2 separate regions of the Homo sapiens genome follow, and region 1 is linked to region 2. Evidence: fine-mapped expression QTL. Tissue or cell type: whole blood. Region 2 holds a variant in brackets; the other region holds the start of a gene. All regions are shown on one strand. Distances are between the middles of the regions. Region 1 holds the start of GATAD2A (GATA zinc finger domain containing 2A). Region 2 overlaps GATAD2A (GATA zinc finger domain containing 2A).

What was found. PIP is the estimated chance that this variant, and not a neighbour inherited with it, causes the effect.
Region 1: it holds the start of GATAD2A, and the variant in region 2 is fine-mapped to the expression of GATAD2A in whole blood (INTERVAL, PIP 0.94).

Annotation. Positions count from the first base shown.
Region 1 is chr19:19,403,329-19,408,854 of GRCh38, forward strand. GATAD2A (GATA zinc finger domain containing 2A) reads left to right here and starts at 2,347. Exons shown (of 12, transcript NM_001384528.1): 1 at 2,347-2,691. RefSeq lists enhancers at 1,503-2,411, 1,849-1,908, 2,412-3,318 and silencers at 2,029-2,578, 3,139-3,218.
Region 2 is chr19:19,443,613-19,448,612 of GRCh38, forward strand. All of the region lies in intron 1 of GATAD2A (GATA zinc finger domain containing 2A), which reads left to right. Among named protein-coding and RNA genes, the nearest start is that of MIR640, 11 kb to the left of the region's middle. RefSeq lists an enhancer at 2,389-2,508. The variant G/A (reference allele first, on the strand shown) is at 2,230.

The DNA of each region.
Region 1 (5,526 bases), 40 kb before region 2:
CTGGATTCACTGTCACTTACCATCTACCCATCTGACCCTGTCTTCCTATGACAGACAGAAATAAACCCTGTAGCTATTTCACCCCACCTACATACCCTGCACCCCTCCTACTCCCCGTCCGACTTTCCTGGCTGAGAAGTTGGCACTGCCCTCTGGAGCAGGCCCTGTCACCAGTGCACCCCTCACTCCACAGGGGTGTGTCATTAATGTGTTGCAGTTGATGCCTCCCTCTTAAAAAAAAAAAGGGGTGGTTGTCACCCTGGTGACTCACACAGGGCTTGCTGGCTCAAACTCTGGAATCTGTATATCTGTCTCAAGTGTCAGGTCTCCCACCTGACCACACTTTGCTCTGTTTGTAGTTAATTAAATTGACATTAATCAAGACCCAGGTGAGGAGCAGTGAGGTAATAGTTTGCTTGTATTGCTTTAATATACATCATCTGATTAATGATCGTAGCATGAAGCAGTTCTTAAAATATACAGCCACCATGTTAGGGTGAAAAACCTGGATGGTTGCCCTAAACCAACCTTGCGCTTGGGATCAGGGAGCTCTTTGAATTCCTATACCGAGTCACCTGTTTGAGAATAAGACTGTTTTGTTTGTTTGGTTTCTGAATTTGAACATTTGAATTTCTTTGTAGCAAAGCAAAGCAAATTGGTGACATAACTGGGTCAGGGAAAGTGATTGGGAGTCAACAGTTTGTATTTTGTATCATTTTTAGGTTGAATTCTCTTTTGGCCTAGGGGAGGTTGTGCCAGATGTTGCATTAAGTAGTGGGAAGATTTTGGGGGGCAGGGCGGTGTGTTTGGGGAGGTGTGAGGTGGCGGGGTGGAATAAACTACAAAAAGTTGACAATTGTATGTAGAACTCAACACAGAATTAGGAGCTTTTTTGAACTCTGTTTAAGGGGACATACAGCAGAAAAACAATTTTTTTTTTTTTTAGAAAAACAATTTTGTAAAATTTGTTCTACATGAAGTGTTTTTCAGGTTTGCGGTTGAGACCCAATTATTCTTGGGCGTTACATTGATTTTCTTTTCAAATGAAGTAGAATAGAAATAACAGTACAGGCTGGGTGCAGTGGCTTATGCCTGTAATCCCAGCATTTTGGGAGGCCGATGCGAACAGATCACGACATCAGGAGATGGAGACCATCCTGGCCAAGATGGTGAAACCCCGTCTCTACTAAAATACAAAAAAAAAATTGCCGGGTGTGATGGAACGCGCCTGTAATCCCAGCTACTGGGGAGGCTGAGGCAGGGGAATCCGTGAACCTGGGAAGTGGAGGTTGCAGTGAGCCGAGATAGCGCCACTGCACCACTCCAGCCTGGCGACAGAGCAAGACTCTGTCTCCAAAAAAAAGAAAAAAGAAAACAGTACGTTGCATGTGGTAAATTTATGTTTGGTGAAACTTTTGTTTCAGTTGTACATATAGATTTATTAGGGTATGCGATAAAGCATGTCACCACCACTCTTCAGGAGTCTAGGTGTCTCATCAGGAATCGTTTGTTTTAAAACAACATGAAAAGAGGCGGTTTTGGGGATTCCTCAGAACCTGATTTTGGTATTGAGAGCCTTCTTGTGGTAGATTTTCCATGAACTTGATATTTTCCCTATTGAAATTGTATTTCGCTTTATGTAGTTTAACATCTCCAAAGTCCATTCTCTTTCAGGCTTTCATTCTGTCTCCTGTGTTTCCTCCTTGTTACTGGAGAGGGAGGGGTGCAGATTTGCTTTCTTGAGGGGTTTTCACCTTCTCCCTGAGGCACGAGGGCAGATTGGGAGGTAACTGGAGAGGGAGAGCAGTCGTCCCCAAGTGTCTTGAGGTGGGTGGGTCTGGAGCTTTCTTTGTAGAATTCTGTTCACTGCACTGGAGAAGTGATCGTTCAGCCGATCCACACCCCGCCCTCCCCACAGACACCGGGGCCGAAGTTCCCAGAGAAGAGCTTCCGCGTGACGACCCCGCGGGGGTGACATTCTAACCCGCGTTTCAGAGGCAACCCTGAGTTGCTTGAGGTCGCCCAGCTCAGCTGGCGCGAGGTCAGCAGTGAGCGCGTCGTGAGTCAGCCTTGGGTGCGGCCCGCCCGGCTTTGCCGCCGGTGAGTTGGCCACGACCCTTCGGCCTGCGGAGGGCGCTGGGACTCGGCGGGGAGGGAGCCAGCCGGAGCCCGCGTGGGAAACCAGCGCGCCCAACGAGGTGTCGCGTGGGAGCGCGCCGGAGAGGGGCGGTGCTTCCGGGGCGGTACCGTCCGGCCCCGCCCCCTCAACTCAGGGGCCCGCCTTCTACGCCTGGAACCCCGCCCACGAGCTCCTCCCTTCTCGTCAGGCCCCGCCCCTCGGTCGCCACGCCCCGCCCAGCCGGGCGCGGGCGGGCGGCGTCGCCTTTAAGAGCTCCCCGGTGTTTTGGGGGCCGCGGGCCGGGCGCGCTGACCTGGTGCGCATGTCCCGGGCGGTGACGCCGGCGCCGGGCTCCATGTGTGCGGCCGAGGGGCGCATTATCTGGCCGGCGGCGCGGGCGGGCGGGCGGACCGGCGCAGCGAGCGCCGCGGGCCCGGGCGGCCCCACAGGCGGAACGAGCGCGCGCGGCCCGGCGTCCCCGGCCCCTCCGCCGCCCGGCCCCGCGGGCGACCCCGGACCAGCAGCCCCCGTAACCTGCGCGCTGCCCTAGGGCCCGGCCGACCCGCGGCCCGGTAAGTTCTGGACCAAACTTGGCGGGGGGCGGGGGCTGGGGACGCACGGCTGAGACTGGAGCGGCGCGGGCCGCGCAGGGTCGGGGCCTCGGGGGGCTCTGAAGGACCCCTGCATGAGCGTGGAAAAGTGAGAGCGAGCGAGTTCTACTCCTTGTATTCTGGGAGCGTCTTCTTGCGCTGCCCTGGAAAGTTCCTTGCCCCGAGGCGGCCCGGGCACGTGGGGGCCGGGCGGGGGTCCCGGAAAGTCGCGGCGTCGCCCCGCTTCCGTCCTGCGCTTCCTGCGGGGTCGGGGGAAGGGCTGGGCCGCGAGGCGCCTCTTCCGAGTGGTCGGGACGGGTGGAGGCGGCGGGAAGACGGCACGTGGGCGCGCGGGGCGGGGGTCCCGCTCAGGGGCGGGGGTCCGGGGCGGGTTGGGCAGCAACGCTGAACCCCGCGGCGGCGGCGGCGGCGGCGGCGGCGGATCCCGTGTCAGAATAAGAGTCCCCGCGCGCCCACGCCTGGAGGGCCGGCCCTCCCCCAGCTCGCGCCCTTCCTGCCTAACCCCCGGGAGCCGCGGGACCCTTTCCCCTCTCTGATCTCCGGCCTTTCTCAAGGCCCGACACTTTAAATTTGCCTCCCCATCTAGGCGGTGGCTCCATTGATTTCTTTTTTCCCACCTAGAGTGGGTCGGCATCAGTGACTAGACAGCAGCAGCTGGCCTTTTAAAGGGATTATTGCCAAGAATCGGAATTGATCACTTCAACAAGGAAAGGCTTATGGGCAGGGCCCAGGCTGAGAGCCTGACGGACACTTGGATTGTGCGCACACTGGGACCCAGAAATGAATGGTGACCCCTCCCTTAGGAAGTGAATGACAACCCTTAGGTGCGTGTTTCTGCCCTGAGAATTTTGCACAGGGCAAAATTTTGTAGGTCTGACTTAACGTCTTTAGGTGTATAGTTCATCCTTATCTTAAGAGCTGTGGATTCTTTAGATCAAAGTCCGAGTGAGTCACTTGAGCCTTTAATTTTCTTTCTTCCTACCAGTTTACTTCTTTCAGTTTTCTTGGAGTACATAGTGCTGGTTACATCTCTGGTTCTGTGTGCCCATTCACACAGTGACACCTCCTGGCTGTGGCAGCACAGAAACTGAGAGCCCTCTGTGCGGGTGTCTCAGTCTTGGACTGTAGTCCTGTTGACTGACTTAACTCTTCTGGTAGTCGTTACAAGTTTTCTTTTAAACTAGATTACATGAAATAATGTTTGTTGGCACCAGTTTGTTAACATATGCTAAGCAGTAGTTTGTCAGACCTGACCACAAGCTGTGGAGGGCTGATAGCTCATACTAGCCCTCGGGTTTGAGTGCCTACTGTGTGCTAAGCTCCCCTGCACAGACATATTCAGTGCCTATAACAATCCCGTGGGGAGTAGGGAAGTATTATCTGCGCTTTACAGGTCAGGAAATTGGGGCTGCTGGAGGCCAGGCGGCTTGCTCAAGGCCTCTTAGTAGTGAGGCAGAGCCAGGCAGCCCGTACTTGGTGCTCTAGAGCCCACAAATGCTGCAGTTTGCGAACCCTAGTGAGCATTTCCCTGGCGCTTCTAAAATACAAGGCCATTTTCTTGTCCAGGATCCAGGGCACCTCTGTTTGCGGATGTAGGGGATAATCTGGTGACATGGGGACACCATGCTAGCCCTGCTTTGTTCTAGTGGAGCAGCGTTACCAGCTGGATTTTAAGGAACTGAACTACAGAGTTAGTTGCTACTTTGCATTCGCTTCTTCAGCTTTGGACTCAGAAAAGTTGGCCCTTTTCTAGAGGAAACAGTTTATAGGATGTGGGAAATTTGCAAGGGATTTTCTGTATCCTCTGTCTTCACTTATTCCCTCCCCTCCTTCATCTTTCAGTTCTTATTTGTCTCATAAAATTCCGAAGCTGGTTTTTATGAAGATTGCTTCTCATCTTGGAAGGGCTATAGAGAATGGAAAGATTTGGATGCAGTGTGTTTTGTTTGTTTGTTTGTTTTTTTGAGACGGAGTCTCGCTCTGTCATCCAGTCTGGAGTGGCACGATCTTGGTTCACTGCAACTTCCGCCTCTCAGGTTCAAGCAATTCTCCTGCCTCAGCCTCCCGAGTAGTTGGGACTACCATGCCCGGCTAAGTTTTGTATTTTTAGTAGAGACGGGGTTTCACCATGCTGGCCAGGCTGGTCTCGAACTCCTGACCTCGTGATCTGCCCACCTCAGCCTCCCAAAGTGCTGGGATTACAGGCGTGAGCCACCACGCCTGGCGGATGCATTGTTATTTCCACTCAGATGACATCATTTTTTAAAATGTCAAGTCATCTCTATTAATGCAGTATCATTTGGCAAATCCTATAATCTTATATTTTGATAGTGAGGGAAAAATATAATGCTACTTTCGGTAGGAAAAAATCCTGGAAGGATTTGTACCAGAATGTCAATAAAGGTCTCTACATTAGGATTAGCAATAGTTTTTCTTTTTTAGAAAACTTTTTAGTGTCTCTGTATTTTGCGTGTGTGTGTATGTTTTTAATGAGGAAACATGTTTTAAATACTCTAATTTTCAACTCTTCAGTAGCTCCTCTGACTTGTTTTGCATCATTTATTTTCTGAATTTCTGGCATTGCAGGTAGTGATTTCTAGATTGATATATTCAACAAATATCAGAGTGCATACTGTGCCTTCGACACTGCGAGGAATCCCTCCTCAGTAGAGTTTATAGTGAGATTAGTGGGCCAGGAGTCGTAATTAATCTTATAAACATGGGGAAACTTACAGGGATCAAGGAGAGAAGGACACTGTGACCTGGTGAGCCCGAAAGGACCTTTCTCCTACTGGG
Region 2 (5,000 bases):
TGTGGAGGACACGAGGGTGGTCCCCGATGGCCGTGGACCTGGGTGGTAAGCACCTGCAGTTAATCACACCATTATCTACTCTGTGGGTGGATTTGAAATTTTCCTTAAAGAAAAGTGTGAAAATTGGGTTTGGCCCAGGTCTTTTCTCAGGGAGCTTCGTGACTGGATCATCTAGAAGAGGGGAAATGGCCATTTATAAAAGCTGAGGTAGAGGCCACTTGGGGGTAGTTTAGGAGACCACTTGGGAGTAGTTTAAATTCAAGCAGAAAACCATGAGCAGAGACTGGAATTGCCAGAGGGGACCGTGGCCTGTCAGCCCACCAGACAGCCTCTCTTACACACTCTTATTTTCTGTAATTACAACACTCACAGCTACTCTTCGTGGAGCCCTCAGGAAGTGTTAGCAATAAAGTGGGTGCTGTTCCCATTTTACAGGTGAGGAAGCTGAGGCCCTTGTGGGTGAATCAGGCTTTCTGGCTTTGACTGGACAGCTAAGGGCATGAGCTTCTGGGCCTCCTTCCTGTCGCCTCCCTGCTCAGTACCTGGGGCACATCTGACTACCACTCCAGTACCCTGACTCTATGATGAAAACCATTCTCCCCTCCCCATTGGTATTGCCCATCCACAGCAGTCGTAGCCCATCACGAGTGGATAAAGTAGGTGGTTAGCTGGACTTGCACATGACTTGTTTCGTGAACAGTAGTGCTTAGAGTTGTGATCTAGGGACCCAGCGAACAGTGTGTGAGGGACTTCAACCCTGCCTCTCTCCGGTATGTGCTGTGCCTGCTGTGCCCCCCACTCCAGTGTTCTCCTTGGGGCTCCTGAGGCAGCTCCCAGTAGGAGGCCTATCGTTGTTGGCACCCCAAGGGTGTCCCTGATCCCTAAGTAGAAACTTAAGCAGGTATTTGGACAAATAAATGAGTGAAACACCTTGTGACGTTGAGGCCTGTGGCACTTCCCCAATAGTGTGTTAGTGTAAAACCACCGTGTATGATGCCTGTTGGTCCCAGCACTTTGGGAGGCCAAGGCATGTGGATCTCTTGGGCCCAGGAATTTGAGACCACCCTAGGCAACATGGCGAGACCTCGTCTCTACAAAAAGTACAAAAATTAGCCAGGTGTGGTGGTGCGTGCCTTTAGTCCCAGCTACTCAGGAAGTTGAGGTGGGAGGATTGCTTGAGCCCTGGAGGTTGAGGCTGCAGTGAGTCATGATTGTGGCTCTGCACTCCAGCCTGGACAACAGAGTGAGACCTCGTCCCTTAAAAAAAAAAAAAAAAAAGCCACCATGGCAGTTTTGTTTTATTTGGATTTTAGGCAGTGTAGGGCCTGTGATAAGGCCTGGCTGAGGTGGGGCTCTGCTGGTAGTAACTCTTGTGATTCCAGCCCTCTGAGGCCACTTCCTCTTTCTGCCTTGGCTCCTCCTTGGTGAATTCTCCCTTATGTGTCCCACATTCTCATACTCCCAGGCATTGGATCTTTAGCTGGGAGATGGTTCTGAGTTCCCATGTGTACAGTGGGCTTGCTGCAGCCTCCTGCAGTTGTCCTGTAGGACTCGTGGTTGGTGGTGACATAGAGGCTGCCTACCCTGATGGCTGATGGCTGATGGCAGTGTGGTTGTTTGGGGTCTTGTTGTATAAAAGGAGCATGTTTACTGAAGGACCCAGTTCTGTGCTGTTGGGGTCACAGCAAACCTGCTTTTGCCTGTTAGTATTTTAGTAGCTCTAGAGGGGTTCATGGCTATTGGAATTAGTATTTTTGTTTTTGTTTTCTTTTCTCACCTCTTTAAAAAAGCATGTAAAATTCACATGGTAGAATATTCACCAGTTTTAACGTTTTTAAAGTGTGTTGTTTAGTGGCATTTAACCCATTCACAGTATTGTGCAACCATCACCTGTAATTCTAGAACATTTTCATCACCCCCACCCCAAAAGAAACCTTGTCCCCATTAGCAGTCACTGCCTTTTCCTTGACTCTGCTCTCCACCCTCCCAGCAGCCACTTATTCTACTTTCTGTCTCTGGGTTTGCCTCTTCTGGCATTTCATATAAATGGGATCATGCAATATGTGGCCTTTTTGTCTGACTTTTTTTCACTTAGCATGATGTTTTCAAAGTTCAGTCACATTGTGTCAGAGTTTCATTCCTTTTTATGGCCAAATAATATTCCATTGTCTAGATGGACCACATTTTGTTTATCCATTCATCCATTGATGGACATTTGGGTTGTTTTCT[G/A]CTTTTTGGCTATTGTGGATAATGTTGCTTTTAACATTCACCTGCACATTTTTTTTTGAATACCTATATTCAGCTCTCTTGGATATACCTACAAGTGGACTTGCAGGACACTCGGGAGCATGGTGATGCCGTGGGCTGGAGGCCCTGCCCAGGCTCATGTGGGAACTCTGCGTTTAACTTTTTGAGGAACTGGCAGACCGTTTTCCACATCACTCTACTGTTTTACTTTCCACTGTTTTCCACGTCACTCTACCGTTTTACTTTCCACCGTTTTCCATGTCACTCTTACCATTTTACTTTGCACTATGCAGTGTATGAGGGTCCCAATTTCTCTACATCCTTACCAATACTTAATTGGCTTTTTTGATTGTAGCCATCCTAGTGGGTGTGAAGCGGTTTCTCATGGTGGTTTTGATTTGCATTTCCCTCATGACTAATGACACTGAGACAGAGTCTTTTTCACATGCTCATTGGTGATTCGTCTCTCTTCTTTGGAGAAATGTCTGTTCAAGTCTTTTGGCTGTTTTTTAATTGGGTTGCTTGTCTTTTTGTTGCTGAGTTGTAAGGATCCTTCATATGTTCTGGACACTAGACCCTTATCAGGTGTATGATTTGCTATAATTTTTTCCCATTCTATGGGTGTTTTTTTTTTTATTCTATAATGCCCTTTGCACAAAAGATTTTAATTTTGATGCAGTCCAAATTATCTTTTTTCTTTTTTTGATATTGTGCTTATATGTAAGACTGTTTGCCAAACACCAAGTCATGACATTTTTCTCCTGTGTTTTTTCTTCTAAGAGTTTTATGGATTTAGCTCCTAATACTTGGGTCTTTCATCCATTTTGAGTTAATTTTCATATATGGGGTGATGTAAAGATTTTGTTTTGTTTTTATTTTTTTGTAGAGACAGTCTCACTATGTTGCCCAGGCCGATCTCAAACTCTTGGCCTCAAGCGATCCTCCCTCCTCGGTCTTCCAAAGTGTTGGGATTACAGGCGTGGGCCACTGCATAGTGCCTGGCCAGGTTTTGTTTGGTTTTGATCATTATCTTTTCTGTCAGGATGAAGACATTTTGGCATTAACCGGGAAGGAGGTTGAAGGGCAGTGGTAGTTGGGAGTTCTGAAAGTACTATTTCAAATCTGTTTAACAAATGCGTATACATTGCTTCTTCTGTGCAAAGCATTGTGCCTGCATGGGCCCTTGGATGGTAGTGCTAGAGAAATAGGTGTCCCTTGATATCCTGGGGGTGGAAGCCCACAAACAGAGAGGTGAATAAATAGCATGTCAAGTGGTGATGAGGCAGGAAAGGGGATAGAGACCCCCTGGGGGGCATGTGTGGAGGGGAAGCGTTTCTCACTTTGCATTATCAGCTGAGACCTGGGGGAGTGGAGATGCAAAGGCCCTGAGGTGGGAGTGAGCCAGGATGTCAGTGTGGCTCCAGCTGAGAGAACAGGAGAGGGGTTGGTTGGACTTGGGGGACGGGCACAGGGGTGGCTGGATTATGGTCAGGCCAGCAGGACCTTCTGGCCAGGGCTTTGCTTCCGTATTATTAAGTATCATGTTTTACCAAAGAAGCACTGATACAGACCCCCCACTCCCCCACTTCATGGCACAGCTGAGCTTAGCTGTTGCCCAGAGGTTGGTGTGGGTGTCTATACACAGACTCCTCCCACCCCTGAGGGGAAGAGTTCCATTTGCAAGGTAGAGGGTAGAAGTAGGATTTCTGTCCCAGCCCTTACAGCTGTGCAGGAACCTGCTGCAAGGATTGTTTGTGGGTAGACCCACGGGCTGGGGCTGCGTTGAGAGCAGATAGTTTGTTTCATCATAGAAGTAGGTTTCCCTGCTGGCTGTGATCCTCCCTGTGGCTCTGTGATGCTGCAGGATGCTTGTAGGGAGGAGCTTGAGGAAGGGCGCCTGGGCAGGGCCTCCAGCCCACAGCGTCACCACGTTGCTGGGTGCCCTGATGAAAATGGCAACAGATGAATTTTTGGTTCCCTCACTTTCCACTTGACATTTCCTTCCAGGAACTGAGAAGGCTTTTCTGGCCCTTGGAATTTTCTGTGCCAGACCTCCCTGCCGTTTCCAGTCTCAGGCCTTGATGGAGCTGGTGGTCAGGGCCACAGCTTCGCCTGGCTCAGCCCTGAGAGACTACAGCCCTGGAAGGGTTAAGGCCTCCCATTTTGTGATGTGACGCCTGATGGGCACGTAGCAGATGGCATGGAAATGGCAGGCGTAACCCTTCGTAGGCCACGTAGGCTCACGGTCCAGGAGGCATCTGGGAGGGGACAGAGAGCCAGGCCCTTCCCACAGAAGGGGAGCATGGCCAGCCCTCACAGTGACGTCCTACAGCTGGGACTCTGGTCCCCATTTACCTGTGGAGGTTTAAGACTGCCCGGACTCCCCCTTCACAGGCGGCACCTTTGTTTCTATGTCGTGTGTTCCTTGGGCAGCGTCTGTTTCTCTCTCTGGGGCCGCAGGGTTGGGCTTGGGCACAGGCCCTGGCCAACAGCGGCGCAGGTGTGGGGCCACTTCAAGCACGGCCTCAAATGAGGGCAGTGTTGGGCACTGAACAGTTCTGAGATGTCACACACAGAAACCAAGTCCTGATCTCCAGTGTGAGCACAGGGAGCTATTGGTAGTTGTGTTGTGTTGTGTTGTGTTTTTGAGACGGAGTCTCTCTCTGTCTCCCAGGCTGGAGTGCAGTGGCACAATCTCGGCCCACTGCAACCTCCGCCTGCCGGGTTCAAGCAATTCTCCTGCCTCAGCTTTC